2 separate regions of the Homo sapiens genome follow, and region 2 is linked to region 1. The links come from fine-mapping of genetic effects on gene expression. A gene starts in region 1. The other region holds a variant in brackets. All regions are shown on one strand. Distances are from middle to middle. Region 1 holds the start of AHCTF1 (AT-hook containing transcription factor 1). Region 2 overlaps ZNF670-ZNF695 (ZNF670-ZNF695 readthrough (NMD candidate)).

What was found.
Region 2: its variant is fine-mapped to the expression of AHCTF1 in whole blood (TOPMed, PIP above 0.99).

The regions. Positions count from the first base shown.
Region 1 is chr1:246,923,162-246,938,406 of GRCh38, reverse strand. It overlaps AHCTF1 (AT-hook containing transcription factor 1), which reads left to right and starts at 6,459. Exons shown (of 36, transcript NM_001323342.2): 1 at 6,459-6,829. RefSeq lists enhancers at 6,077-6,126, 7,247-7,336 and a silencer at 6,807-6,906.
Region 2 is chr1:246,953,794-246,969,038 of GRCh38, reverse strand. ZNF670-ZNF695 (ZNF670-ZNF695 readthrough (NMD candidate)) reads left to right here. Exons shown (of 7, transcript NR_037894.2): 6 at 1,247-1,344. It also overlaps a transcript of ZNF695 not described here. Among named protein-coding and RNA genes, the nearest start is that of AHCTF1, 29 kb to the right of the region's middle. RefSeq lists enhancers at 6,457-6,506, 6,557-6,716. The variant G/A (reference allele first, on the strand shown) is at 6,986.

The DNA of each region.
Region 1 (15,245 bases):
CCCAGGCGGGAGTGCGGTGGCGCGATCTCGGCTCACTGCAAGCTCCGTCTCCCGCCATTCTCCTGCCTCAGCCTTCCGAGTAGCTGGGACCACAGGTGCCCGCCTAATTAGCCCGGCTAATTTTTTGTCTTTTTAGTAGAGACGGGGTTTCACCGTGTTAGCCAGGATGGTCTCGATCTCCTGACCTCGTGATCTGCCCGCCTCAGCCTCCCAAAGTGCTGGGATTACAGGCGTGAGCCACCGTGCCCAGCCCACACATAGATTTTTTAAAGTAACCTTTGAAGAAAATAATGTGAAAAAAACGGAGAAGTAGAAAGAGGAAAAATTTTAAGGAACAGATTAATTGTGGTACCTGTTAATGACAAATATTACCAGTGTTTGGAGAAAGAAATATAATCTGGCTTTTGGGGGGGGGGTACCATTCACGCAAACAATTTTTCAAATGCATAAAGACTATGATGACAAAAATATTTTACAATTTAAATGTTTGTTATTACTTTTCTTCTTTTATGACTGTAGGTTTGATTTAATGTTGAAGGGTGGGCCAGGCGTGGTAGCTCATGCCTGTCATCCCAGCACTTTGGGAGGCCAAGGCGGGTGGATCACCTGAGGTCAGGAGTTCAAGACCAACCTGACCAACATGGTGAAACCCCATCTCTACTAAAAATACAAAAAAAAAAAAAATTAGCTGGGCATGGTGGTGCATGTCTGTAATCCCAGCTACCCAGGAGGCTGAGTCAGGAGAATCGCTTGAACCCAGGAGAAGGAGGTTGCAGTGAGCCGAGATCACGCTACTGCACACCAGCCTGGGCAACAGGGCCAGAGTCTGTCTCAAAAAAATTTTAAAAATTAAAAAATTTTAAAAATTAAAAATTAAAAATGTTGAAGGGTGGCAGAGGATGGCACCCCAAAATATGCCTTTTGGCATAAGGATTATTTTGAGCTAAAGGCAGTTGAGAAACGGCTGATACAAAAGGGAAACGCTGCCTTCCTTGTCCCAGGAGAGAAGAAACATTCTAGTCATCAGAGATGTGGAGTCAAGGCTGAGAAAAATCTGAAAAAAAGTTAATTGTTAAATTAACTTGTATCTTTAGCATCCCAACACATGTCCACAACCGTCACTCTTAGTTCAACCTACTATAGAAGCATTTAGGTTTTGTCATGTCTTTGGGTCTTCATTTTCCTATGGGGGCTCCCATGTACATGTAAAAATCTGTGTACTTTTCTCTGTTTTTAGAGATAAGATCTCGCTCTGTTGCCCAAGCTGGAGTGCAGTGGTCCGATCATAGCTCACTGCAACCTCAAACTCCCAGGCTCACGCTCAAGCAATCCTCCTGCCTCAGCCACCCAAAATATTGGGATGGCAGGTGTGAGCCACCTTGCCCAGCCCTTTCTCCTGTTATTCTCACTTGTGTCAATTTAATTCTCAAACCCAGCCAGAGAGCCTAAGAGGGTAAAGGTAAAGTTTTGCTGCCCCTACAATTTTTTTTTTGTTGTTGTTGTTTTGTTTTGAGACAGGGTCTCTTGCTCTGTCACCCAGGCTGGAGTGCAGTGGCACGACCACCGCTCCTGCAATCTTGACCTTCCAGGCTCAAGTGATCCTTTCACCTCAGCCTCCCAAGTGGCTGGGACTACAGGCATGTACCACCATGCCCGGCTAAGTTTTGTATTTTTTGTACAGATGGGTTTTTGCCATATTGCCCAGGCTGGTCTGGAACTCCTGGGCTCAGGTGATCTGCCTGCCTCATCCTCCCAAAGTGCTGGGATTACAGCTGTGAGCCACTGCACTTGGCTTATTTTTTAAACAAAACAAAAAATCCATCCCAAAAAATTTGTAGCAAATCATTTGACAATTCATTTCACCACCTATAAAATAAGGTGTTTGGCCTAGAATATCTCTAAGGTTCCTTATAATCTAATATGGCATATTTTGCTTTGTTTTTTTTTTTTGCATATTTTGCTTTGAATGATGAATTATTATTTGCTCAGTCACTAGACAATGATTTTAGTATTTACGCTCTGGCCATTGTGCCATCACTGGACATAGAGTGGGGAACAGGAAAAATATGATTGTTCATTCACCTAGTTTATTGTCAATTGGAGAAATCAAGGGTGGGCACTGCTTGCTATAACCAATCAACTGCACAAAAATGATGAACATGTACCTGTTAGGACAAAGACAGTTTTCTCTGCTCGAGACAGATAAGCTCCATTTTTGTTGTTGTTAAAGTAATAAGGCTTTCCCTGTTACTTTGCAAAACAATTGGAGATCTAACTCAGAACGCTTCAATGAAGTCCTGAATTCCCTGAAATCAGATGGCCGCTAGTCACTCCCAGGATGCTGGAATGGTATTAAAATATTGCCTCTTGGCCGGGTGCAGTGGCTCATGCTGTAATCCCAGCACTTTGGGAGCCCACGGCGGGTGGATCACTTGAGGTCGGTAGTTCAAGACCAGCCTGGGCAACATGGTGAAACCCCATCTCTACTAGAAATACAAAAATTAGCCAGGAGTGGTGGCACAGGCCTGTAATCCCAATGGGAGGCTAAAGCAGGAGAATCGCTTGAACCCGGGAGTCGGAGGCTGCAGCGAGCTGAGATCATGCCACTGCACTGCACTCCAGCCTGGGTGATAGCGTGAGACTCCATCTCAAAAATCAATCAATAAATAAAATTTTTAAAAATATTGTCTCTTGAATCAAATATTCCAGATGGAAGCATGAGGATTTGTACCAGTTATTATCCATTTCTAGGCCTTTTACCAACATAACTTAGGACCATATAGGTGAAAACGGAATGAGGTTCTAAGGAAGGCATGTACTTCCCTTTCATCTTTACAACAGTTCTGCAAAGAAAGTGACATTATCTTTTCTTCTTAGCTGAGAAAACAGGCTCAGAGAGTGAAGTAATTTCATAAAAGTCATGTTGCTAGAAAGTAGTGAAACGCAGTAAACCCAAGTTTGTCTGGCTCCAAATGATTTCATTATTTTCACCACAACATGCTTCTTCCAGTGAGAGAAAGCTTTGAAGCCGTGTTTACCAGAGTCTGTTCTGTGAAGCACTAATAAGGCAAGATGTTACACAAGTGCAAATGGATGCCATGGTCAAGCAACTCTGGGGAATGCCAAGCATATTAAAGCCAGTGAAGTCTTACAGAAAATACATTTTTATTTTTATTTAATCAGCTTTTCCCCCAAACTCATTTGATTACCAAATCTAGATTTTTCTTCATTTAACACTTATTAACATCTCTTGAAACCAATTAAAATAATCTGGTATTTGCTTAGTTAAATGTCTGAAAGAAAGAAGAAAAAGGATTGAATGAGAGCTTTAAATTGGAAATTCAGTTTGCAAAGCAACTAAAATAAAAAACTAGCAGTTATGGGGGAAGCATTTTAAAAAGATACAGTCTGTGCTCCCAGTGCAGCTGGGAGATGGAGATGGTGGGTGGATGGAGAGAGTCAGAGGCAAAAAGGGAAACAGACATGAAACAATTCAGACAGCATATTTCGCTCAAGTTTTTAGTGATTCATGTGGGCTGAAGCTGAAGAAAAGATTGGGAAGAGGAAAGAGGCTTGAGCTGGCCCCTGAGGGATGTTAAGATTTACTCAGGGAGAGAAGAGGCTGGGAGACACTGAAAGAGAAAACAGGTTTGGAGAGTTAAAAAACAAAACAAAACAAAACAAAGCTCAGGAACTATATAGGGAAATAAAATACGACAGGTAGAGTTGGTCTAGATTATGGACAATTACACAGGCCAGGCCAGTGTCTCACGTCTGTAATTCCAGCACTTTGGAAGGCTGAGTCCAGCAGATCACTTGAGCCCACAAGTTTGAGACCAGCCTGGGTAACATGAAGAAACCCTGTCTCTACAAAAAATGCAAAAATTAGCTAGGAGTGGTGGTATGCACCTGTAGTCCCAGCTATTTGGGAGGCTGAGGTAGGAGAACTGCTTGAGCCCAGGAGGTCAAGGCTACAGTGACCCGAGATTGTGCCACTGCACTCCAGCCTGGGTAACAGAGCAAGACCCTGTCTCAAAATAAGTAAATAATAAAAATATAGACAATGATACAGAAATCATTCTGTTGATAATGATGGAAAGGATTAAAATCTGAAAGACTATGTAGACAGTCAATCTGGATAATATGTGCAATTAAAATAGATTTTTGAATTTCACAACTGGAAGGGCTCTTAGAGCAAAGTTAATAAATATCTGTCTAATGAATCAGTCAATCCCTTGCTCTACACATCTGATAACTGAAGCCCAGAGAGGTCACTTGATTTTCCTAATGTCACACAGCTCACTAGCAGCACACCTGAGTTGATAATTCATGTCTTCTGACTATCGAGAGGTACAGTACTCATGAACTGGGCATAAAACAGTGCCAAAGAAAGTGTAGAATATGGAGCATGTGACATAAATCAGCACATCCAACAGAGGGTGGTTTCTGTTTGAAGAGATCTCTTTAAAATAATTAAGACAACGAACCCCAAACCTCCTACTGCAAAAGCAGTACTCTTTTTAACTGTTTCTATCACAACTTGGTCCAATACCTTGTGCAAACAAACATGATATGTATGGAGGTTGCTGTTACTAAAGAAACAAAAATTACAGAAAAAAGAAAATTACATTTCCAAAAGGCAGCATTATCTCTGAAAGAATATGGGCCAGGCATGATATCCATGCCTGTAGTCCCAGCTGCTCGGGAAGCTGAGGTGGGAGGATAGCTTGAGCCTAGAAGTTGGAGGCAGCAGTGGCACTGATGAGGCCATAGTGCCTGCGAATAGCCATGCACTCCAGTCTGAGCAACACAGCAAGACACAGTCTCTACAAAAATAAAAATAGGCTGGGCATGGTGGCTCATGTCTGTAATCCCAGCACGTTGAGAGGCTGAGGCAGGAGGATCTCTTGAGCCCAGGAGTAGAGACCAGCTTGGGTAACACAGTGAGACAGTCTCTACAAAAAATAAAAAATAAGGCCGGGCGCGGTGGCTCACGCCTATAATCCCAGCACTTTGGGAGGCTGAGGCAGGTGGATCACGAGGTCAAGAGTTCAAGACCATCCTGGCCAACATGGTGAAACCCTGTCTCTACTAAAAATACAAAAATCAGCTGGGCATGGTGGCGCACACCTGTAGTCCTAGCTACTCTGGAGGCTGAGACAGGAGAACCTCTTGAACCTGGGAGGCGGAGGTTGCAGTGAGCCGAGATTGTGCCACTGCACTCCAGCCTGGTGACAGAGCGAGACTCCGTCTCAAATAAATAAATAAATAAATAAATAAATAAAATAAAAAAATTAATGGGACGTAGTGGCGCATGGTGGTCCATGCCCATAGTCCCAGCTACTTGGAGGGCTGAGGTAGGAGGATCATTTGAGCCCACGAGTTCGAGGCTGCTGTGAGCCTTGATTACACCACTGCACTCCAGCCTGGGCGACAGAGCGAGACACTGTCTCAAAAATAAAAAAATTTAAAAAGCACATATGAAAGGTAACAGAAAAGTAGAAACTTTCCTGATAAAAGAGCATCTTCTTAAAATCCCTACTCTACCTCATGTTATAATCCTTTTACTTACTACTTAGTATTAAGGATACGTTCCCTATCTGTTTGAAACATGTTTGGCGCTGGGATTTGCTTCAAAGGAAGATACTAACAAGAAATAAGAAATTCCACAATGAAAACCCGCGGTGACCAAAAAGATAACAGTGATTTGGGGTAAAATTTTGACTAAAAAGATTAGGCTAGGCTGCGCGAGCATTTTTGGCCATGAAAGCACAGGAGGATGCTAGAAAAAACAGCACCGTGGAAAAAGCGTTTCCCCAGAAGTCTGGGAGCCCACCTTTGGCATGAAAAGCGGGAGCACAGGTTGTAGTGAGCCAAGATCGTGCCACAGCACTCCAGCCTGGGCAACAGAGCAAGACTCCGTCTCCAAAAAAAAGAAAAAGAAAAAAAGAAAAGTGGGAGCACAGAACAGAAAATACAGAATGCAAGCTGCCAATTATGGGAGAAAGATTATCACTCGGCCCCCAGCTGGCAGGGCCACACGATTACGTGACAAGAGAGTCCGCCTGCAATCGCAGCAGGCGGCTGGCAGAGCCCGGCGCGACCCCCAGCGAAGACTACCACTCCCAACTGCGCACGGGGCGCGCCGCCGGGGCCGCCAGGGCGGCTTCACGCGCAAGGCACTGTGGGACTCGTAGTCTTTCTCCCCACCAGCTCCTCGGAGGCGGAGAGACCCGATTTTTTTGTAAATGATCCGCCCTTCCAGGCCCTGCTTCTCTTTCCTCCCTTTCCCTCCCACCTCCTTCTTTCACCGAGAGTTTGAAAATTCCCGCGGAGCCGGCGCTAGAGCGCGGAACCATCGCGAGAACTCTGGTCCCTGCAGCCGCGATCTCCCGCCGGTTCTCCCCTCCCTCTCCGCCCTTTCCTCTGCTCCCTCCCTTCCGGGGCGTGTGGAACTCGGTTTTGTCGGCGCAGGGTAATGCGCAGAGCGGGGCCGGCGCTGTCCGAGGCGAGCAGGCAGCGTTGCAAGGGGAAGGACCCAGAAGCGCGGCGGGAGCAGCGACTGCGTTTTAGCCGCTGAGCGGTCTGCAGGCCTACAGCCCGCGAAGGCACTCTCGGGGGCGTGTGGCTCTGAGGTGGCCGGGGAGGTCGCAGGCGGCGGCCGGAGCGCAGAGGAGCGGCTTCAGCCGGGCGGAGGGGTGTGAGCCCGGCCCGTGGCGGCCACGTCTCCCGGGAGATGCTGTGACGGACCCGCACGGGAGGAGCTCGCGCCTGGCCTGGCGACCCGGTGGACTCGGCCCGCGGCGGCGCGCTCACCCGCCCCGTTCAGGTAGGGGGAAGGGAGGGAGGGGGTTGGGCCCGCGCGGCGGAGGGCGGGTCGCGCGGCCTGGACCCGCGGCGGCGGCGGCGGCGGCGGCGGCGGCGGCGGGGCTTCTGCCCCGCGAGCGCCGGGCCTAGGCCGGGCGTGCGCGGGGCCAACGGATGGGGCTCGAGGGGGCGAGCGGTGGCGGTGGCGGGTACGGCAGGCTCGCGGGCGCCGGGCTTCGTTACATAATCTCGGACCGGAGGAGCGGCGGCACATGGCGGCGGAGCGGCGCTGGTGGTTCGCGTCCTGCGCCGGCAGTCGGGTCCCTTTACGGACGGCCGGGGCCGCGACCCTTTCCCACTGTTCTCCCACGCGATGGACTCGTTGGCGGGCCTTTCCCCGAGGGAAGCGGCCGGCGTGCTGAGCCTGTCCTGTGTTGGCGTGTGTTCCACATGCGCTTGGGCCTGGCCACAGTGAGTAGTCCTGGCGGGGAAGAAGTTGGACTCGGGGCTCAGCCGTGAGGTTCCAGCTCACCCGATTGGTCAGATCAAGGAGATTTAAAATAAAAGCACATCTTGGGGTGCTTTGCCTTCCTTTTTCCTACCTGGGAAACAGGACGGTTTCTTTTGCCACTGGTTGACTGTTTTGGTTTGGGTGTTTTGTTTTGAGAGATGGGGAAATTTTGTTCTCAAAGCTTACGAGGTTCATACTATCTGTGTGCAAAGTTTTATGAGATGAGCGTTATTTTTATTTCCAAATCGTCAGTTGTAGAAATTTTTGGAAGAACTGGGTTCTTCATAGAACAAAACGTAAATCCTTTGGGGAAATCCTAAACGATATTTATTCTCAGAATATCCTAAAGAACCTGTAGATTTTAAGAACTGTCTTTGGCTGGGCGCAGTGGCTCCTGTCTGTAATCCCAGCACTTTGAGAGGCTGAGGCGGGAGGATCGCTTGAACCCAGGAGTTTGAGACCAGCCTGAGCAACATGGCGAGACCCCCCCTTTTTTTTTTTTAAACTGTTTTTTTGTGAGCTTTCACTGATAGAGTCTCTTAGGAGAGAAGAAATTAGAGTGGTTTACTTATTTCGGAGGATTTGACCTGGGATGACAAGCCCAGTTAAGGTTAATACTTGAAGGGATGTTTTAAGTGTGCCAAGCGCTATGGGAAGTCTACGTTGTCTCTGTACTGTGATTTTTGGATCCTGATCCTTCAGTAACATACTACCAAGCTGTCACGAGTTTGCAAACAACAATAATTATCTTGAAAAAATTTTTAAAACATCATGTCAACCGGGAATTGGTGGCGCCTCTAGTCGCGCGCCTACTTGGGAGGCTGAGGCGGGGGGAACGTTTGAGCTTCAGCCTCAAACTGAGAGTTCGAGGGTTGCAGTGAGCTAGGATCGCGCCGCTGCACTCAGCCTGTGTGACAGAGCGAGAACCTGTTGCTAAAATAAAATAAAAAAGATCGTTATACATCAGTTTTGAGACTTTTGTTTTCTTTTTATGCTTCTCCTTTTTCATAGGTACAGATACATCTTTTTTTTTTTTTGAGACGGGGTCTTGCTCTGTTGCCCAGGCTGGAGTGCAGTGGCACAATCTTGGCTCACTGCAACCTCCGTCTCCCAGGTTCAAGCGATTCTCCTGCCTCAGCCTCCTGAGTAGCTGGGATTACAGGCGCACGCCACCACACCCGGCTAATTTTTGTATTTTTAGTAGAGACGGGGTTTCACCATATTGGCCAGGCTGGTCTTGAACTTCTGACCTCGTGATCCGCCCGCCTTGGCCTCCCAGAGTGCTGGGATTACAGGCGTGAGCCACCGCGCCCGGCTGGTACAGATATATTTTAAGAGGAAGCAAAACGTTGTGTCTTTCACGCCTACCTTTAATATTTTCAGGGACTTTTCTTTCTTCCCAGAATGAAGTGTAACTTCCCTCGGTTAGCTCAAAGGTCTCTACAATAAGTATATGCTACTGTCTATCCTCATATGTTAACAAATTTTATGCTTTTGCTATTCCAGAATCGTCATCAATCCTGGACTCATTCTGTGGAAGAGATGTTTCCACTCTGATGTTTCTTTGCTCATGTCCTTCATCCTGGAGTGCCATCTTTCCTTTTTTAAATACTCAAATTTCAGGTCCTCCTTCTAAATCCAATGTTTTCACTGTATTTTTATTTTTATTTTTATTTTTTTGAGACGGAGTCTCACTTTGTAGCCCAAGCTAGAGTGCAATGGCGTGATCTTGGCTCACTGCAACCTTCGCCTCCAGGGCTCAAGCGATTCTTGTGCCTCAGCCTCCCGAGTAGCTGGGACTACAGGAACGCGCCGCCACACTCGGCTAATTTTTTGTATTTTAGTAGAGACGGGGTTTCACCATGTTGCCCAGGGTGATCTCGAACTCCTGAGCTCAGACGATCTGCCCACCTCGGCCAACCAAAGTGCTGGGATTACAGGCGTGAACCACCGCACCCAGCCCACTGTACTCTTTTATTTCCCCTTATCCCACTTTTTTACTGGGATCTCACAGCATATGTACCTCTATTGTAGTAGCATTTATTCTTTGTGTCTGATACTCTGATAATTGACTATATATCTCCTTTTCTAGATTGTAAACTCCTTAAAGTCAGGAAGAAGGTTATCTTCTTGACCTTGCATTCCTTTACTAACACGGTGTTTTAAAAGTAGTTTGTGATTTTAAAATGTTTGAATTAAGTTGGTAAGAAATTTCTGAAAGGCTTGAAGTTTCTGGGTCCACTGGTAGTTTACATTTAAATGACAATTCGTCTTTTTATTAGTCAAAAAGAAAAAAAGTACCATTGCATACAAAGTGGTTTATAGAAATGTTTGCTTGGTACATGTTGCAATATAATTGTTGAACTAGATTAGAGTTCCATTTTCTGTGGTGGAATTCAGTTACTGCAGGAATTTGTGTATTTCACACAGAAAACTGATTTATAGTATTCTGTTTTTAGTATCTGGCCTAGTAATTTTAAGAATTTTGTTTTGTTTAATACTGAACCAGTGTATACTTAAAAATAATTGGGCCCAATCTTGAGTTTTAAAAAATTGATTTTATTGTTTAACATGCCTATTTCTTGTCTCTGCTAGTATCCTAATAATATCCTGCTATACAGTATCCTGTTATCCTAATTTATTACATTTAGGACCTGTTAGTCCAAAGGCACTGTGACCTTGTCGAATGCCCAGGAATAAGATTTGGTGATTTTTGCCTTTTAGGAATTCATAGTGTAGTGGAGAAGACAGGCAAGCAGAAGTAATTTTTTTTTTTTTTTTTTTTTGAGACGGAGTCTCGCTCTGTCGCCCAGGCTACAGTGCAGTGGCGCGATGTCGGCTCACTGCCAGGTCCGCCTCCCGGGTTCATGCCATTCTCCTGCCTCAGCCTCCCCAGTAGCTGGGACTACAGGTGCCCACCACCACGCCCGGCTAATTTTTTTTGTATTTTTAGTAGAGATGGGGTTTCACCGTGTTAGCCAGGATGGTCTCGATCTCCTGACCTCGTGATCCACCTGCCTTGGGATTACAGGCGTGAGCCACCGCACCCGGCCGAACAGTATTTAATTTAATTAATTAATTAATTTTTTGGTGGCGGAGTCTTGCTCTGTCGCCAGGCTGGAGTGCAGTGGCGTGATCTTGGCTTATTGCAACCTCTGCCTCCCAGGTTCAAGCGATTCTCCTGCCTCAGCCTCCCAAGTAGCTGGGACTACAGCGCGCTACCGCGCCCAGCTAATTTTTGTATTTTTAGTAGAGACAGGGTTTCACCATGTTGGCCAGGATGGTCTGGGTCTCTTGACCTTGTGATCCGCCAGCCTCGGCCTCCCAAAGTACTGGGATTACAGGCTTGAGCTACCGCGCCCGGCCATGAACAGTATCTTCATTCAAAGCCAGTAGAACGTTCCTGCTCTGCCTATCTAGCCTTTGGAAAGGAATTGAAACTTAGTAAATTACTTTTTATAGGTTGCCAGTGCTGGCATGTCATAAAAGGCTGGGATTCTGTTTAATTTTGTACAGTACTGAACGTAGGTGTTTCATGTGTGTTTGTGTTTTCATATACCTTTATATGAGATATTCTTTCTAATAATATAGTTTTTCTTTTTGAGACAGTCAGGCTGTGTTGCTGAGGCTGGAGTGTAGTGGCACCATCTCAGCTCACAGCTACCTCCACCTCCCCGGTTCAAGCGATTCCCATGCCTCAGCTTCCCAAGTAGTCGGGATGACAAGCGTATGCAGCCGTGGCTGGCTGCTACATTTCTTGTTTTTAGTAGAGACGGGGTTTCACCATGTTGGCCAGACTGGTCTCTAACCAACTCCTGACCTCAGCCATTCTCCCGCCTTGGCCTCCCAAAGTGCTGAGATGACAGGTGTGAGCCACAGTGCCTGGCCTATTTCTTTCTTTTTTTTTTTTTGAGACAGAGTCTCGCTCTGTCGCCCAGGCTGGAGTGCAGTGGCACGATCTTGGCTCACTGCAAGCTCCGCCTCCCGGGTTCACGCCATTCTCCCTCCTCAGCCTCCCGGGTACCTGGGACTACAGGTTCCCGTCACCACGCCCTGCTAATTTTGTTTCTGTATTTTTAGTAGAGACGGGATTTCACCTTGTTAGCCAGGATGGTCTCGATCTCCTGACCTCGTGATCCGCCCGCCTTAGCCTCCCAAAGTGCTGGGATTACAGGCGTGTGCCACCGCGGCCCGGCCATACACTTTTGTTTGTTTTGAGACTTGTTTGTTTTGAAACGGGGTTTCGCTCTTGTTGCCCAGGCTGGAGTGCAATGGTGCAGTGTCGGCTGACTGCAATCTCCGCCTCCCGGGTTCAAGTGATTCTCCTGCCTCAGCCTCCCAAAGTAGCTGGGATTATAGGCATGCGCCACCACACCTGGTTAGTTTTCTGTATTTAGTAGAGACGGGATTTCACCCTGTTAGTGAGGCTGGTCTTGAACTCCTGACCTCAGGTGATCCACCCACCTCAGCTTTCCGAAGTGCTGGGATGACAGGTGTGAGCCACCGCGCCTGGCCCCTATTTCTAATAATAGAGTGTTTCGATGTTCTCTGTAGTGTGCTTAAATTGGAAAAGTCTTAAAACCAATTTTGCCCTATAGATTCAAAGGCTGTTAAATTTGAAAAACTTTATTAAACATTTTTTTGAACTCCTTTGTGCTAGGCACCATGATGAAGTCTGGAGAAATAAGTACTCCTCTTTTCTAGAAGCTTGGATATGAAAGGGAGGAAGACAGAATATAGTAAAGCACAATGTTACATGTATTATTAAGTGCTAGAACCTGGATTCAAAGTTTGAATTAGAAATACGTTAGCCTGTGTTGCTATAAAGGAATATGTGAAACTGGATAATTTATGAAGAAAAGAGGTTTATTTTGCCTCATGGTTCTGCAGGCTGTGCAGGCATGACACCAGCAGCTGCCTACCTTCTGGTGAGGGTGTCAGGAAGCTTCCAATCATGTCAGAAGGCAAAGGGAGAGCAGGATACTCACATGATGAGAGTGGGGAGTGAGGAGGTACCAGGCCTTTTTTTTTTTTTTTTTTTTAAAGACAGGGTCTCACTGTCGCCTAGGCTAGAATTCATTGGTGCAGTTATGGCTCACTGCAACCTTGACCTCCCAGGCTCAAGCAATCCCAGTAGCTGGGACTACAGGCAGGCGCCACCACACCTGGCTAATTATTTTTCGTAGAGATGAGATTTCGCCATGTGGCCCAGGCTGGTGTCAAATTCCTGGGCTCAGTCAGTCTGCCTGCCTCAGCCTCCCAAAGTGCTGGGAGCCACCATGCCTGGCTTTAAACAGCCAGATCTCATGTGAATTCATTACTGTGGAGAGGACACCAACCCATTCATGAGGGGTCCTCTCCCATGACCCAGACACCTCCTACCAGGCCCCACCTCCAACACTGGGGATCACATTTCAGTATGAGATTGGGAGGGGACAGTTATACAAACCACATTAGGTTTATTTTTTATATTTTTAGAAACAGGATCTTGCCCAGGCTGGAGTGCAGTGGCCTGATCATAGCTTACTGCAACCTACAACTCCTGGTCTTAAGAGATCCTTCCGCCTGAGCTTCCCAGAGTGCTGGGTGTACAGGCATAAGCCATCATGTCTGGCCACAGTTTAAATACTGTGGCTTTATTCTCTTAGAGCTAGTACTTCTATATCATCTTTGTTTTGCATTCAAACAACATAACAAAACTCACCCAGCCTAAGAAATAGAACATTTACTATATTTCATTTTCCAAAAAATGCTTTTTGTGTGTTATCCTTTGGACTTTGGATTTTGTGAAAATCTTTCCAAAATTGTATTGAGATGATTTTGATTGAAGTATAGGGATCATGGAACTTTTTTGCTCATTATCCATTAGCACTCTTCTGAATACACTTTGTAAAAAGCTACTGCATGGAATTCTGAAGGTTTTGGTTCTGGTTGACTTACTTTGGTTTTAAGTTTAGTAGGAAAAATGTGTTAACTTCAGTTCATCATTAAACTAGTTTTATCAAGCTATATAAAAGGCTGTCAGAGGGGAAAACAACATAGTAACAATGTGATTCTGGCCTTTTCCATCTGTTTCTCTAAAAATTTTTTTGGTACTAAGCTACTTAGGAGATGAATAGGGTCCATTTGTGTATATAAGAGCAACTAAGGCTTGAGTATAGGACCCTCATGAGGGTTTTGTATTGGAGGCTAATGGTCATAGCTTCCTATTGATGCACACCTTTATATTAGGTTAGACTTTTGGATCTGTTTTGGATAATAAAAAGCAAACTTCTACTTTTGATGACTTGGAAATCTCAAACATAACTTTTTAGGTTTTGTGACTTAATGGTGACATATGTGATTAAGTTTTTGAGGCAGTCCATCAAGTTTTTGTCTAGGAGATAGCATTTATAGCCTGAACAGAAAATGATAACTCATATATTTTAATTTTTTGAGTGAATCTTTGAAATGTTTTTTTCACATAAATTTTTTTGGGGGAGGGGACTAAGATGTGGAGAGAATAAGAATGACAAGAAAGAACGTTAGGTTGATTTTTGCCTTGTTCCCATCCTAAGGCTACATAAATATGTACTGTATTTTTAAAGTTGCATTTTTATTTTATATATATATGTTTTAAAATTCTTTAATTATTGATTTTATAAGAAATCCAAGCCATACTGAAATGAGCAAATCACAAATTTGCATCACACAAAAATAAACGGCACTAATGTTTTGTGAATATTTCAGATATCTCTGTTTAAAGATAAACAGATGGAAGAATTCATAGAGATTATTGTATGAAATGCTAATTTTTAGAAATAGTTAATTTCATAAGAAAACTGAAAGGAATTGTTAAATTTATAGTAGTTCTTTTAATGTAAATATTTCTTTATAAATTTTTTAAAGTTAAACACATCTGTTAGAAGTGGCTGTTATCCTGTTATTTTACCACAGGTTTCAGTTTGATAGTATTGATTCTCTTCTGTGAGAATGGCTTGGGCTGGGTGTTGGAACTGAATGTAGTCCTTTCTGTACTCAATAGATAGGAGGGGGAGTGCTGAGAAACGGTAATGACTTGTACCTCGGATCTCTCTTTTGCCAGATTTATATTCTACGCCTTTGGGCCTTCACCTTTCTCCCAAAACAGCAGCACAGTTCCCTGAAACATGGCCCTCTTCTCAGGTCCTGTGGCATAGTATGTAGTTAGGGACTTCCAGACCTGGAGTTTTCCTGGGGTTATCTATTTCCCCCTTCATTTCACTTCACCCCACACACACTGAAGGATGTTAGAATTCTCTGGATTTTGTGAACTCACCTTCTTTCTTCTGTACCTGCTCCTGTGTGCTACGCGCACACACACACACACGCATGCACGCACACATTTCATTTGCTAGATACTAGGGGAGGAATGTAAAGCAATGTGTCACTTCCACCACTTCACTCTAGCCGTGTGTAATGTCTTTGCTGCAGATGAGTAGCACATTATACCAGAAATGTTGATTGAAGAGTCCACATGTCTGCTCTGAATTGAAATATCCAAATAGCTTTTTACCATCTGCTGAACTTAGTGATTCTGTGTCTAGATTATTTTATCTGTTTTGTTGACCTGTTTGTCCATTACTAGCCTATATCACATTGTTTCAGTTATTATAATTATTTTATGTATTTATTTATGTATTTATTTATTTATTTTTGGGACAGAGTCTTGCTGTCACCTAGGCTGGAGTGCAGTGGCACAATTTTGGCCCACTGCAACCCTTGACTCCTAGGTTCAAGCAGTTCTCATGCCTCAGCCTCCTGAGTAGCTGGGATTACAGACGCATGTCACCATGCCCAGCTAATTTTTGTATTTTTAGTAAAGATGGGGTTTCATCATGTTAGTCAGGCTGGTCTCAAACTCCTGACCTCAGGTGATCTGCCCACCTCGGCCTCCCAAAGTGCTGGG
Region 2 (15,245 bases), 31 kb before region 1:
AGGAGCCGTATGTTAACAGCCAAGACAATGGGAAAAATGCCCCCAAGACATTTCAGAGACTTTCGTGGCAGCCCCTCTCATCACAGGCCTGGAGGCCTAGGAGGGAAAAACAGTTTTGTGGGTCAGGCTTAGGGCCCTGCTATTCTGTGCAGCCTTGGGACCCTGTTCCCTGTGCTTTAGCTGCTCCAGCTCCAGCCATGGCTAAAAGGACTCCAGATATGTTTCAGGTTGCTGCTCCAGAGGGTATAAGACACAAGCCTTGGAGGCTTCCAGATGGTGTTAAGCCTGCAGGTGCTCAGAGGGCAAGAGTTGAGGCTTGGGAGCCTCCATTCTTTCAGATTTCTGAGGATGTATGGAAACAACTGGATATCCAGGCAGAAATTTGCTTCAGGGGCGGAGCCCTTGTGGAGAACCTCTACTAGGGTACTGTGGAGGGGAAATATGGGGTTGAAGTCCCCACAAAGAGTCTCCACTGGGGCACTGCCAAGTGGAGCTGTGAGAAGAGGGCCACTGTCCTCCACACCCCAGAATGGTAGCTCCATCAACAGTTTGCACTGTGTGCTTGGAAAAGCCACAGGCACTCAACACCAGCCTGTGAGAGCGGCCATGGGGCACTAAGCCCTGCAGAGCCGCCAGAAGCAGAGCTGTCCAAGACCTTGGGAGCCTACCCCTTGCATCAGTGTGGCCTGGATGTTAGACATGGAATCAAAGGATATTATTTTGGAGCTCTAAGATTTAATGACTGCCCTGCTGGGTTTCGGACTTGCATGGGGCCTGTAACCCCTTTGTTTTGGCCAATGTCTCCCTTTTGGAACAGGAACATTTACCCAATGCCTGTACCCTTATTGTATCCTAGATGTAACTAACTTGCTTTTGATTTTACAGGCTCATAGGCAGAAGGGACTGCCTTATCTCAGATGAAACTTTGGACTTGGACTTTTGAGTTAATGCTGAAATGAGTTAAGACTTTGGGAGACTGTTTGGAAAGCATAATTGTGTTTTGAAATGTGAGGACATGATATTTGGGATGGGCCAGGAGTGGAATGATATGGTTTGGCTCTGTGTCCCCACCCAAATTTCATGTCAAATTGTAATCTTCAATGTTGGAGGAGGGTCCTGGTGGGAAGGTAATTGGATCATGGGGGCAGACTTCTCCTTTGCTGTTCTCATGATGAGTGAGTTCTCATGATACTTGATTGTTTAAAAGTGTATAGCATTTCCCCCTTTGCTCTCTCTCTCCTGCCAGCCATGTGAAGATGTGCTTGCTTCCCCTTTGCCTTCTGCCATGATTCTAAGTTTCCTGAGGCCTCCCCAGAAGCAGAAGCATGTAAAGCCCACAGAACCGTGAGTTGATTAAATCTCTTTTCTTTATAAATTACCCAGTCTCAGGTGGTTCTTTATAGCAATGCAAGAATGGATTAATACACAAGGCCAGGTCAAAACTCCTGATCTTCCCCTGAAACCTGCCCCTGCAAGTCTTCCCCTATCTCAGCTAGTGGCAACTTCATCCTTAGAGTTTCTCAGACCCAAAACCTTGACATCATCCTTGTCACCCCTTTTTCTCTTTTATCCCCCATTCATGCCATTAGGAGATCCTATCTGACCTTTAAGCTATATCCAGAATTCAACTATGTCTTGCCACCTCTACTGCTCCCACCCTTGTCCAGGCCACCAGCATTTCTAGCTTGGGGTTTTGCAACAGTCTTCTAACAGCTGTCCTTGCCTCTACCCTTGTCTTCTTACAATCTATTCTCAATCCAGTGGCTTTTTAATATATAATCCTTTTAATATGTAACGTTTAGGCTGGGTGTGGTGGCTCACACCTGTAATCCCAGCACTTTGGGAGGCCGAGGCAGGCGGATCACCTGAGGTCGGGAGTTCGAGACCAGCCTGACCAACATGGAGAAACCCCGTCTCTACTAAAAATACAAAATTAGCCAGGCATGGTGGCGCATGCCTGTAATCCCAGCTGCTGGGGAGGCTGAGGCAGGAGAATTCCTTGAACCTGGGAGGCGGAGGTTGTGGTGAGCCAAGATTGCGCCATTGCACTCCAGCCTGGGCGACAAGAGTGAAACTCTGTCTCAAAAAATAAAAACAACAAAAAAAGTAACATTTAATATGATTTATTTAATATGTAACTCCTCTGTTCAAACCCTCCAATAACTCCTCATCTCACTATCTCACTTAGAGTAAAACCTTGCAGTGGCTCACAGGACCTCCCCACAACTTTCTCATTTTGACTTTTTTTTCCTTTAAAAATAGGGTCTTGCTCTTTGCCCAGGCTAGAGTGCAGTGATGTGATCATAGCTCACTGTAAACTTGAACTCCCAGGGTCAAGCGATCTCTCACCTTAGCCTCTTGGGTAGCTAGTACTACAAGAATGTGCCCCCATACCTAGCTGATTAGAAAAAAGAATTGTAGAGACAGGTTCATGCTATGTTGCCCAGGCTGGTCTTGAACTCCTGGACACAAGTGATCCTCCTGCCTCAGCCTCCCAAAGTGCTGGGATTACAGGTGTGACTCACTGTGCCGTCTCACTTTGAATTTTTTTTGGTGGGGGGATGGAGTCTTGCTCTGTCGCCCAGGCTGGAGTGCAATGGCGCAATCTTGGCCTACTGCAACCTCCACCTCTGAGGTTCAAGTAATTCTCCTGCCTCAGCCTCCCAAGTAGCTGGGATTACAGGTACCTGCCACCATGTCCAGCTAATATTTAGTAGAGATGGGGTTTCAACATGTTGGCCTTGTTGGTCTCAAACTCCTGACCTCAAGTGATGCGCCTGCCTTGGCCTCCCAATGTGCTGAGATTATAGGTGTGAGCCACCGCGCCCGACCTCACTTTGACTTTTATTCTCTCACTTGCTCACTGTCCTCAGGCCATCTGGCCTTTTTCTACTTCCTTCACAGTTGAAGTATGCCTCTGCCCCAGGCTCTTTGCCCTTATTCTTAACTTTTCTCTTAATATTTTCCTCCAAATACTCACATGACTTGCTCCTTCACTTTCTTCAAGTCTTTGCTCAAATGTCCCCTCTCACTGAGGCCTCCCTGACTACCTGTGATATTGTGATTTATAAAAAGATATATATATAAAATATATATATATTTTTAATTTTCTGGGTTAGTTTTCTCTTGCTTATAACAGAATACCTGAAACAAGGTATATAAACAAAAAGGAATTTATTTTTTACAGTTATGGAGGCTGAGAAGTCCAAGGTTGAGAGGCTGCTCCTGGTGAGGGCCTTCTTGCTGTGGGGACTCTGCAGAATTTTTTTTCTTTTTCTTTCTTCGTTTTTTGCACTGTCACCCAGGCTGGTGGCACGATCTCAGCTCGTATGGTCGTACGGTGGAACGATCTCAGCTCATTGCACCCTCCACCTCCCGGGTTCAAGCGATTCTCCTGCATCAGCCTCCTGAGTAGCTGGGGCTACAGGCACACACGACCACACCTGGCTAATTTTTGTATTTTTAGTAGAGACAGGGTTTTGCCGTGTTGGCCAGGCTGGTCTTGAACTCCTGACCTTAGGCGATCGGCCTGCCTCAGCCTTCCAAAGTACTGGGATTACAGGCGTGAGCCACCATGCCCTGCCAACTCTGCAGAATCTTGAGCAGCGCAGGAAATCACATGGCAAATGGGCCGAGCGTGCTAGCTCAGGTCTGTCTTGCTCTTCTTTTTTTTTTTTTTTTTGAGACAGAGTCTCTCTCTGTCACCCAGGCTGGAGTGCAGTGGCGCTATCTCGGCTCACTGCAAGCTCCGCCTCCCGGGTTCACGCCATTCTCCTGCCTCAGACTCCCGAGTAGCTGGGACTACAGGCGCCCGCCACCATGCCCAGCTAATGTTTTATAGTTTTAGTAGAGACGGGGTTAGCCAGGATGGTCTCCACCTTCTGACCTCGTGATCTGCCCACCTGGGCCTCCCAAAGTGCTGGGATTACAGGCGTGAACCACCGTGCCCGGCCTGTCTTGCTCTTCTTGTAGAGTCATCAGTCTGATTCCCATAATAAACCATTAATCTGTTAACCCATGGATTAATCCATGAGCAGACTAATCCATTCATGAGGGCAGAGCCCCACGACCCAATCACCCCATAAAGTTCCCCCATCTTGCAGTACTGCCACATTGGGGATTAAGTTTTTATTTTCTAATTTATTTTTTATTAAATTTTTTTTTGAGACAGAGTCTCACTCACTCTGTTGCACAGGCTGGAGTGCAGTGCCGCGATCTCAGCTCACTGCAACCTCCACCTCCTGGGTGCAAGTGATTCTCATGCCTCAGCTTCCTGAGTAGCTGGGATTACAGGCATATGCCACCATGCCCGGATAATTTTTGTATTTTTAGTAGAGATGAGGTCTCACCATGCTGGCCAGGCTGGTCTTGAACTCCTGACCTCAAGTGATCCACCTGCCTTGGCCTCCCAAATTGCTGGGATTATAGGCATGGGCCACTGGGCCCAGCCAGGGATTAAGTTTCAACATGAGTTTCTGAAGAGACAAACATTCAAACCATAGCAATATTTGTCTCCAGTCCTTTGGCATAGAGTTCCTAAAACCCTTTAATTTCCTGAGTAATAGGGGCGTTAGGAGAATCTTTTGTTCTGATATTTGGTCTTTGATCTTGGTTCCTGACACAGAGATCCTGATCACTTGGAATTTCCTGGGTAATAGTAGCGTCTTTTTTTCTCATGGGGCACCTCTTGGTGGGCTCCTGGATAGGGCTGGTCACCAGAAAGACCAAGCCATGATTAGAAACTTGGAACTTTCAGCTCAGCTCCCCATCCTCCATGAAGGGGAGAGGGGCGGAAACCTGAGTTAGTAATTGGTGGTGCCTATGTGATGAAGCCTCCATGAAAATCCCTGAACTGTGGGGTTTGGAGAGCTTCCGGGCTGCTGAACACGCGGAGGTGCTGGAAGGGCGATGCACCCTGGAGGGGGCGTGGAAGCCACCTGCCCCCTCCCCCATACCTGGCCCAATGCATCTCTCCCATCTGGCTGTCCATCTGTATCCTTTGTAATATCCTTCCTAATAAACAGGTGAACATAAATAAAGTGGTTTTCTGAGTTCTGTGATCCATCCTAGCAAATTATCAAATCCAAGGAGGGCACCATGGGAACTCCAGTGTACAGCCTGTCAGTCAGGAACACGGGTCACAGCCTGGGGCTTGTGACTGGCATCTAAAGTAGGGGCAGTCTTGTGGGACTAAGTCCTTAAGCTGTGCAATCTGACTCTAACTCCAGGTACATAGTGTCAGGATTGAGTTAAATTGTAGATCACCCAGCTGGTGTTGGAGAATTGGTCGGTGTGGGGAAAACTCCACACACATTTTAGCAACCGGAGAGGAAGTATTCTCTGACAAGTATGACTGTAGAAGAGAAAGCAGTTGGTTTTTCCTATTATACACAACTCCATTTAAAATCGCAATAACCCCCGCACCTGCTCTGGCACTGCCAGCCTTCTTCCCTGCCGGATTATTCTCCATAGCACTTGTCTTGTCATCTAGCGTAGAATTTACTTGTTTGTTCGCTTCATTGTTCCTCCCCTCCCACCACCATCACCACCACTGGAAGGGAAGCTCTACAAGTCAGGAAGTTTGCCTGTTTTTTATTTTTCTTTTTATTATGTTCTGTAAAATCAGAGTTTCACTCTGTTACCTAGGCTGGTCTCCAGTTCCTAGCCTCAAGTGATCCTCCTGCCTCAGCCTCCCAAAGTACTAGGATTACAGGCATGAGCCGCTGCACATGGCCAGTTTTGTCTGTTTGATTCACTGATGCCCAGCACCTAGATTAGTGGCTGGCACACAGTCACCTTTAGTAAACGTGTCATGAATAAATGAATGCAGAAGCAGTGGCAGGGGTGAGCTAGTTAGTGAAGGATGGCCACTTCCGGATGAGGGAATAGCATGGAAAAGCACTAAAGGCAGAAGGAGTGTGACATGATCGGAAATGGACATTAGATGAATATAGCTGGAATGAGGGGCATGGAGAAAGGTGGCAAGAGACAGGAGCCGGTTTGCCTGCTAAGGTGTTTGGACTTCAGCCTAAAGGCAGCGAGGAATCGTTGAAAGGTTTCAAGGCCGGGCATGGTGGCTCACACCTGTAATCCCAGCACTTTGGGAGGCCCAGATGGGCGGATCACAAGGTCAGGAGATCAAGACCATCCCGGTTATCTACTAAAAATACAAAAAAAAATTAGCCGGGCGTGGTGGCGGGTGCCTGTAGTCCCAACTACTCGGGAGGCTGAGGCAGGAGAATGGCGTGAACCTGGGAGGTGGAGCTTGCAGTGAGCTGAGATCGTGCCACTGTACTGCAGCCTGGGTGACAGAGCGAGACTCCGTCTCAAAAAAAAAAAAAAGAAAGGTTTCAAGCTGGCAGAAGGGGGTCAGAGAGGTGATGAAATCTGATGTTAGTAATTTAGAAAGATCACTCTTGCAGAAAACATCAGCTTAGAGGTGAAGAGGCCAGCCCCACGGAAGCCACTTGCTTCTCATTTTAGTAACTCTGATGATCAATGATGAGGACCTGAATTAAGTCAGTGGCCAGAGCCATTGAGAGGAAAGGGGATGGATTTGAGAGGTATTTAAGAAGTAAAATCTTTATGACGTGGTAAACAAATCGTCTGTGAGGTATGAGGCAGAGCAAGAGGCTAGGACGACCACCAGACTTCTTGCTTGGGTGGCTTGAGGGATGTGATGCCTTTCCCTGAACTCTGGTGTAAAGCAGTCGTGCTGCCTTGCTAGCCATATTCCTGTGACTGGGCCATGAGGGCCCAGTGCTGATGGGGCACAAAGCCCAAGCCATTCGTCAGTGTTCCCTACGTGTGCAAGCCCAGCTGGTGACAGGAAGTCTGACCTGAGCCCCACTAGTCAGCAGCCTCTCCTTCATTAGGAAAGACCAAGCCTAGCATATAAACATTGCTTTAATTTGTTAGCCAGGGCTTTGTGGCTTCCTGCCGCCTTGACTGCCCTATGAAGCAACCAGAGAAGGAAATTACACAT[G/A]GATTTCCTTAAAGAGAAGTTCAGATTTCTCTAAGGTTATAAAGATACAGGCAGCAGTGATCGTCACCACCACCGTCTGCCATGACAACTCATATGTCTGCAAAGCACAGTGCCATTGAGGTGCCTCTCTATGCCTCTGCGTTCTTGAGATCTTTTCCCTTAACTGAATGATGAAGGGAGTGATGAAGAGGGCCCTTTGCTAAGCAGCCTGGTGAACACTGAAGTCAATGATCACAGGAGTCAGATCACCCTTACTACTAAGTTCAAGCTATCTGAACTCCCTTCCAGAATGGGAATGAGGCAGGCTGCAGGATGTGGAGCCCGAGGGCAGCACCCAAGAAAATAGTCTAAAGCATCTTTTGCCTATCTCAGGGACCAGTGGGTGACAATTGGGTCTGAAGCAAAATACTATAAGCAGAGGTAGCAAGAGGGAGTAGGTGAATTCAGTAGAGTGAATGGGAAGCATCCTGGAAAGATTCCCTGAGTGTCTTGGGAAGGAGAAGCAGAGCCTTCCTGTACGTATGAAGAGAGCTGTGAAAGCAACACTCTTAAACTCAAGCAGCTTATAGAACAATGGCCCTGCAGTTTATGGAATGGAGGTGGCAGGGAGTAGCAATAATGGGGCTTAGGATTTAAGAACAGGCACTGTGGGAGGCAGAAGATTTGCATTCATTCATTTTAAAAGACTTTATCGAGTATCTACGTGCACATGAAATAATAGGTAGCAATATAAGATTGTCACATGAACAAATAAACAGCTCATTATAGGCTGGTGCAGCTGGAGGTGGCTTTGAATGCATATATAACTTCTAATGAAGTGTTATGCCTAATTAGTGGAGTAACGTATATAATTTTTGAACTGATGATGCTAAAGATGAGAAGTTTGAGTTACATATGCATTATTTGATGTTAAGACTTATACCCCATGATTTTGAAATAGCTAAGTTTCTTGGTCATCAACTGACCCTACTATGAATTTCAATGAGTGAATCAAGTCAGGAAGCCCACCTTCATAGTGAACATGTTTTAAATGATAATTGAAATAGAAACATTTTTGAGCTCAAAAGACCTTCATAGATTCTTTACTTTTACAGCTCTCTCTACCATTCTTTGTGTTGTTTTTTGTTTTTTGTTTGTTTGTTTGAGACAGGGTCTCCACCCAGGCTGGAGTGCAGTGGCGTGATCTCAACCAGTCCAGGCTCAGGTGATCCTCCCACCTCAGACTCCCAAGTAGCTGGGACTGCAGGTGAGCACCACCATGCCCAGCTAATTTTTATATTTTTCTAGAGTTTTGCCATGTTGCCCAGGCTGCTCGCGAACTCCTGGGCTCAAGGGATCCACCGGCCTCAGCCTCCCAAAGTGCTGGGATTACAGGTGTGAGCCACCATGCCTGGCCTGTACCATTCTTTGAAGGATAGATAGCTATCTTGAACTATGGAGAAATGATCTGAATTTGTAGACAGAAATGAAGAAAAGAACTTGTCTTGCATGGCCAAGTAGGTCTTGTATAACCTTATCACTCTGAATGGAAACAAATGGTTCTCTGGGGCATATATATAGAGAGAGAACATAGGTAGTATTCTATACTGCTACACAATACCAACTGTTTTTACTTTTACATATATGACAAACAGCATTGGAGAAACTAGCAAACCACTCCAAAAGAAACCACACTCTATATAATATAAATTTTTCCCCAAACTGCAATCATATCAGCCTGCTTGAGTACAGCAAAATGCATCTAGGTTACTGGGAAATCTTAGGGTGGCAGTGTTGTTCACTCTAAATATATTAGTGTTCCAGATAAAACTGTGGTTCCCTTTTTGCTGATATGTTTACAATTTCTTTGAATAGAAAAGAGGAAGTATTACAATATGAGAAAGTTTCCTTAAATAATGACGTGGCAAAATGTGTGAAATCTGAGAGGAAAAGCAAGCAGTTAAATTATTCATGAAGCTTCTCAACTGGGTTTTTCAATGAGATTGGTTTGTTTCAAATAATACATTGTGAAATATGTAATCTAACATACTTAGAGGAAATGAAGTTCAGTGAAATTGACTGTTGCATGAAGATAGCAGCTTACCAAAATACATAACCATAGTTATGAAAACTCATACATTGCTACGGAACTAATGGATCAGAAACACTGGAGAGTTTTTGCTTCTGAGGAACAGTCCACTTTCACCGCCTATCTTCAGAACCGCCACGGAGAGGGAGAACTAAGAACATCTAGCTGTTAATTTCCTGCATCATTGGTGCAGAATGTGGCACATTGTAAGAAAAAGTGACAAGCTCAATAGTCTAGGTTCTAAAAATATGCCCATTTTGGGCCAGGCACGGTGGCTCACACCTGTAATCCCAGCACTTTGGGAGGCTGAGGCTGGTGGATCACGAGGTCAGGAGTTCGAGACCAGCCTGGCCAAGATAGTGAAACCCCCATCTCTACTAAAAATACAAAAATTAGCCGGGTATGGTGGCGCTCGCCTGTAGTCCCAGCTACTTGGGAGGCTGAGGCAGGAGAATTGCTTGAACCCAGGAGGTGGAGGTTGCAGTGAGCCGAGACTGTGCCACTGCACTCCAGCCTGGGCAACAGAGTGAGACTCTGTCTCAAAACAAAAACAAAAAAAATGCCCATTTTGGGTTCTAGAATAAGCAGATAATGTGTTTTCAACATTTAAATGCTTCTTTCAGAAAAGAGATTTTATATATATATATATATATATATATATATATATATATATATTTTTTTTTTTTTTTTTTTTTTTTTTTTTGAGACAGGGTCTCACTCTGTCATCCAGGCTGGAGTGAGTCCTGTGGTGAGATCATACCTCACTGCAGTTTCAAACTCCTGGGCTCAAGCAATCCTCCTGCCTCAGTCTCCCAAGTAGCTGGGACTACAGGTACATGCCCGGCTAATTTTTAAATTTTGTTGTAGAGACAGGGTCTTGCTATGTTGCCCAGGCTTGTCTGAAACTCCTGGCCTCAAGCAATCCCACCTTGGCCTCCCAAAGTGCTGGGATTACAGGTGTGAGCCAACGCACCTGGCCAAGACACAGTATCTGATTCGCTGACATCTGAGGAGAGTAAGGATAATTTACAGTATCTGATTCATTGACATCTGAGGAGATTAGTGATAATTTACAAGACACTTCTTCTTCCCCGTGAGTGGCACTCGCTTTCTTAAACCAATAGCAAACACACTTTTCACCTTAGAGGACTTCACTGTCCCCGCGTGTTACTATGGCTGCATAACAAATCACCCGAAAATGGGGTGGCTTAAAGTACAACAATCATGCGTTACATCGTGTATTATCTCGCACCGTTTCCATGGTTAGAAATTCACACCAGGCGTAGAATGGATGGCTGGTTTCTGACCCACATTGTCAGGGATATCAGCTGGAAGACTCAAAGGCTGGCGCCTGGACTCTGAGGGATCATTCACTCAGGATCATGACAGCAGCTGATGCTTGCTCATGGCTGGGGACTAGCTGAGGATGTCAGCCAGAATTCCTCACTAGACCTGTCTGTGGCCTGAGTCTCCTTACTATGTGATGGCTGAGTTCTAAGGGTAAGGATCCCAAGAGAGAAGGAAAAATAAATGGAGGTTTCTTCATTTTTATGACCTAGCCTTCAAAGTCACATATTTTGTGACTTTTTGCCAAACTTCAATACTGGGGCAATCATAAGACAAGTCCCGGCTGGGTGCAGTGGCTCACGCCTGTAATCCCAGCACTTTGGGAGGCCGAGGAGGGCAGATCACGAGGTCAGGAGATCAAGAACATCCTGGCTAACATGGTGAAACCCTGTCTCTACTAAAAATACAAAAAATTAGCCGGGCGTGGTGGTGTGCACCTGTAGTCCCAGGTACTCGGGAGGCTGAGGCAGGAGAATGGCGTGAACCCGGGAGGCGGAGCTTGCAGTGAGCCGAGATCGCGCCACTGCACTCCAGCCTGGGCGACAGAGCAAGACTCTGTCTCAAAAAAAAAACAAAAACAAAAACAAAACAAAACAAAACAAAAACCAAGTCCCTGCCTAGATTCAAAGAGAAGAAACATAGATCCAACGTCTCTGTGGGAGAAGTGTCAGACTCATCATAGAAAAGGCATGTAGGATGCATGTAGTAATAAATATACAGGTGCAACCATCTTTAGAAAATACAAGGCTGGGTGTGGTGGCTCACGTCTGTAGGACCAGGAGTTTGGGACCAGCCTGGGCAACATGGCAAAACCTGTCTCCACTAAAAATACAAAAAATTAGCCAGGCTTGGTGGTGTGCACCTGTAGTCCCAGCTACTGGGGAGGCTAATGTAGGAGTCACCTGAGCCCAGGAGCTCGAGGCTGCAGTGAGGTAAGATCATGCCACTGCACTCCAGCCTGGGCAAGCTGAGTGACACCCTATCTCAAAAAAAAACCCAATCTGCCACAATGTGTTTCTAGAAAGGTATTGAAGGTTTATCTCATATTGCTACATAATTTGAATTTTAAAATATTTTATTATAAATATCTGCTCACGTGGAAAATTTAGAAAAAGATGAAAAGAATAGTCCAATATAGTCCTACCACCCAAATTAACCATAATTAGAGAAGATTAAAGTTTTCTTATAGTCAGACATACGATTTTCTGCTGTGGTTTCTTCGTTGCTTGTGTTCCCCAATTCTTTTTTTTTTTTTTTAGACGGAGTTTCGCTGTGTTGCCCAGACTGGAGTGCAGGAGCCTGATCTCAGCTCACTGCAACCTCCAACTCCCTAGTTCAAGCGATTCTCCTGCCTCAGCCTCCCGAGTAGCTGGGACTACAGGAGTGCACCACCACGCCCAGCTAATTTTTTGTATTTATTAGTAAAGACGGGGTTTCACCATGTTGGCCAGGATGGTCTCCATCTCTTGACCTCATGATCTGCCGGCCTCGGTCTCCCAAAGTGTTGGGATTACAGGCATGAGCCACCGCACTCGGCCTGTTTCCCAATTTTTAATTAAAAACTTGAAAGAGTAGTACAAAGAATACCATTTATTCTCCATATAGATGCAGATAATACTAACATTTTATTAATTCAATATTTGCTTTATCTCTTTTTTTCTTACTGAACCAATAGAAAGTTCATTTCACATATCATGATACCACCTGTAAATATTACAGTCACAACATGCATCTCCTAAGCATAAGGACGTTATACTGAGTAATCACAACAACGTTATCATCTCAAGAAATAGGCCCAGCGCAGTGGCTCATGCCTGTAATCCTAGCACTTTAGGAGGCCAAGGTGGGAGGATCACTTGAGGTCAGGAGTTCAAGACTAGCTTGGGCAACACAGCAAGACCACATCTCTACAAAAATAAAAATAAATAATAACAATAATAGTTTCATGATATCTAATAACATAGAATGGGCAATTCAATATTAACATACCCCCAATTATCCCATGATCTTTTTTTTATTTTTGGAGGCAGAGTCTCACTCTGTCCCCCAGGCTGGAGTGCAGCGGCACAATCTCGGCTCACTGCAACCTCTGCCTCCCGGGTTCAAGTGATTCTCCTACTTCAGCCTCCTGAGTAGCTGGGATTATAGGTGACTGCCACCAGGCCCGGCTAATTTTTGTATTTTTTGTAGAGACGGGGTTTCACCATGTTGGCCAGGCTGGTCTCAAACTCCTGACCTCAAGTGATCTGCCTGCCTCAGCCTCCCAGAGTGCTGGGATTACAGGCATGAGCCACCGCGCCCGGCCCCCATGACCATCTTTTATAGATTTTTTTAAAAATAATGATCCAATCGGCCGGGCACAGTAGCTCATGCTTGTAATCCCAGCACTTTGGGAGGCCGAGGCTGGTCGATCACGAGGTCAGGAGTTCAAGACCAGCCTGGCCAACTTGGTGAAACCCCATCTCTACTAAAAATGCAAAAAAATTAGCCGGGACTGGTGGCCGAAGCCTGTAATCTCAGCTACTTGGGAGGCTGAGGCAGAGAACTGCTTGAACCCAGGAGGTGGAGGTTGCAGTGAGCCGAGATCATGCCACTGTACTCTAGCCTGGGTTACAGAGCAAGACTCTGTCTTAAAAAAAAAAAAAAAAAAAAATCCAATCCAAACTAATATCTGGCATGTGGGTATCTTTGGTTAATGTCCTCATCTGGCTCCCGTGCCTCCGTACCTAAATCTGTCAAGTAAGGGGTTAGTGATGAGACCGTTGTCTACCCAGGGAGTTCTTGTGAGCATCATATTCACTTTCTTCAGCTGGGACTCACTGAGCACCTTCTGTGTGCTGGACATTGTCCAGAAGACAGTAGTACTCTTAGGAGCCTACATTCTAGAGAGATGGTAGAAAAGAACGGACTTTGAAAAGTTAACATCGCTAGGTAAATATAGGGCGTTATCATTTTAGGCTAAAGGATTGAAACAAATCTTGGGGAAAAAGCCTCCTTTGTACAAAAGAAAATGGATTTAGATTAAAATTAATTAGTTCTGTTCTGTGTAGGTGTTTGTTTACAAGCTCAATGAAGAGATCAGCAATACTGAGTAGAATGATAATTTTAGAGTTTAGAGTATATGAGAACACTGCGGGAGAGCTTCTACTCTTAATTAAATAAAATTACTTATACACATTTTGTCACATAATACAGTTAAGCACTGCATAACAGTTTCAGTCAATGATGGACCTCATAGACGACAGTGATCCCCTAAGGTTACAATAGAGCTGAAAAATTTCTATCACAAATACTTACCATTGTGTGATGATTTCCTTACACTATTCAGTACAGTAACATGCTGTACAGGTTTGTAGCCTAGGAGCAATAGGCCTGTATTGGTCTATTTTCATACTGCTATGAAGAAATACCCAAGACTGGGTAATTTTTAAAGAAAAAGAGGTTTAATGGATCCAGTTTCACATGGCTGGGGAGGCCTCACAATCGTGGTGGAAGGTGAAGGAGGAGCAAAGGCACATCTTCATGGTGGCAGGCAAGAAAGCACGTGCAGACTTATTCACTGTCGTGAGAACTGTATGGGAAAAACTCCCCCTATGATTCAATTACCTCCCACCAGGTCCCTCCCATGACACGTGGGGATTATGGGAGCTACAATTCAAGATGAGATTTGGATGAGATTTGGGTGGGGACACAGCCAAACCATATCAAGGCCTTACCTGATAGCCTAGGTGTATAGTAGGCTATACTATATAGATTTGTGTAAGTACACTCAATGATTTTCTCAGAATGTATCCTGAGATGACTGTATGACTGTATTAAATTTTTATTTTCTCAGTTATTATTTTCCTAAAAACTTAGTGAGCAAGAAAACCCTATAAGAATATAGAGATAGCAAGTCAGAGTTTCGAGCTGGAAGTGGCCTGAGAGATCGTCTAATCCAGATTCCACATTTTTACAGATGATCTGATCAGTGATCATTTTACAGGAATTTGCATGAAACTTAAGGCTCTAGACACACATGGTTTCCATATATAGAAGCCTGATTCCAAATCCTGTACATTAGACAAGACAATCAGAATCTTGTGTTATCCTGATTTTTGTTCTTCATCTTCCAGTTACATGGGTTTTCTTGTGAGAGCTGAAATAATAGTATCACCTTTGGGGAACGGTGACTGCCAGTTTTGGATCAATCTTAGGCCACTGGAAGGTTGGTGGATCTTCTCCAGCAATTCGGGCTGAACTCAAGCAAAGCTGAGTCTAAGATCAGTTTGGACCCTTTCCCCTGGAACAGCTGGCAGGCATTGCCTGTTCCTGTCCTTGGCTTTCAACTGCTGGACAACATGTTTGGGGAGTGTGTGCCAATATTTGGGTTTTTATTCTTCTGGTTTAACAGTTGTTAGTGCCGTTGGCTCTCAGGGAAATTCAGGACAATCTCCTTCTGTAGCTTTAAGGTTGGCCTGATTGGCAAGACAGTTGAGGACAAACTGAAGTCATTCGTTCATTCATGTGCCAGTGTCCCTGTGCTCAGAAACAGTTGTTTTAAGGATGGCAAAATGGAAGACTTGAGGATTTATGATAATACTGAATGGCTATCCTCTAGGGCACTGTTGAGTCTTAGCAGAGTCCCAAGCTCTACACTTACCCTGAGTTTTTAGGCTTCTTTGTTTTTCGGGTTTCTTTTTTTTTTTTTTTTTGCTTGTTTGTTTGTTTGTTTTGAGACAGTCTCACTCTGTCGCCCAGGCTGGAGTGCAGTGGCGTGATCTCAGCTCACTGCAACCTTCATCTCCTGGGTTCAAGTGATTCTCCTGCCTCAGCCTCCTGAGTAGCTGGGATTACAGGTGCCTG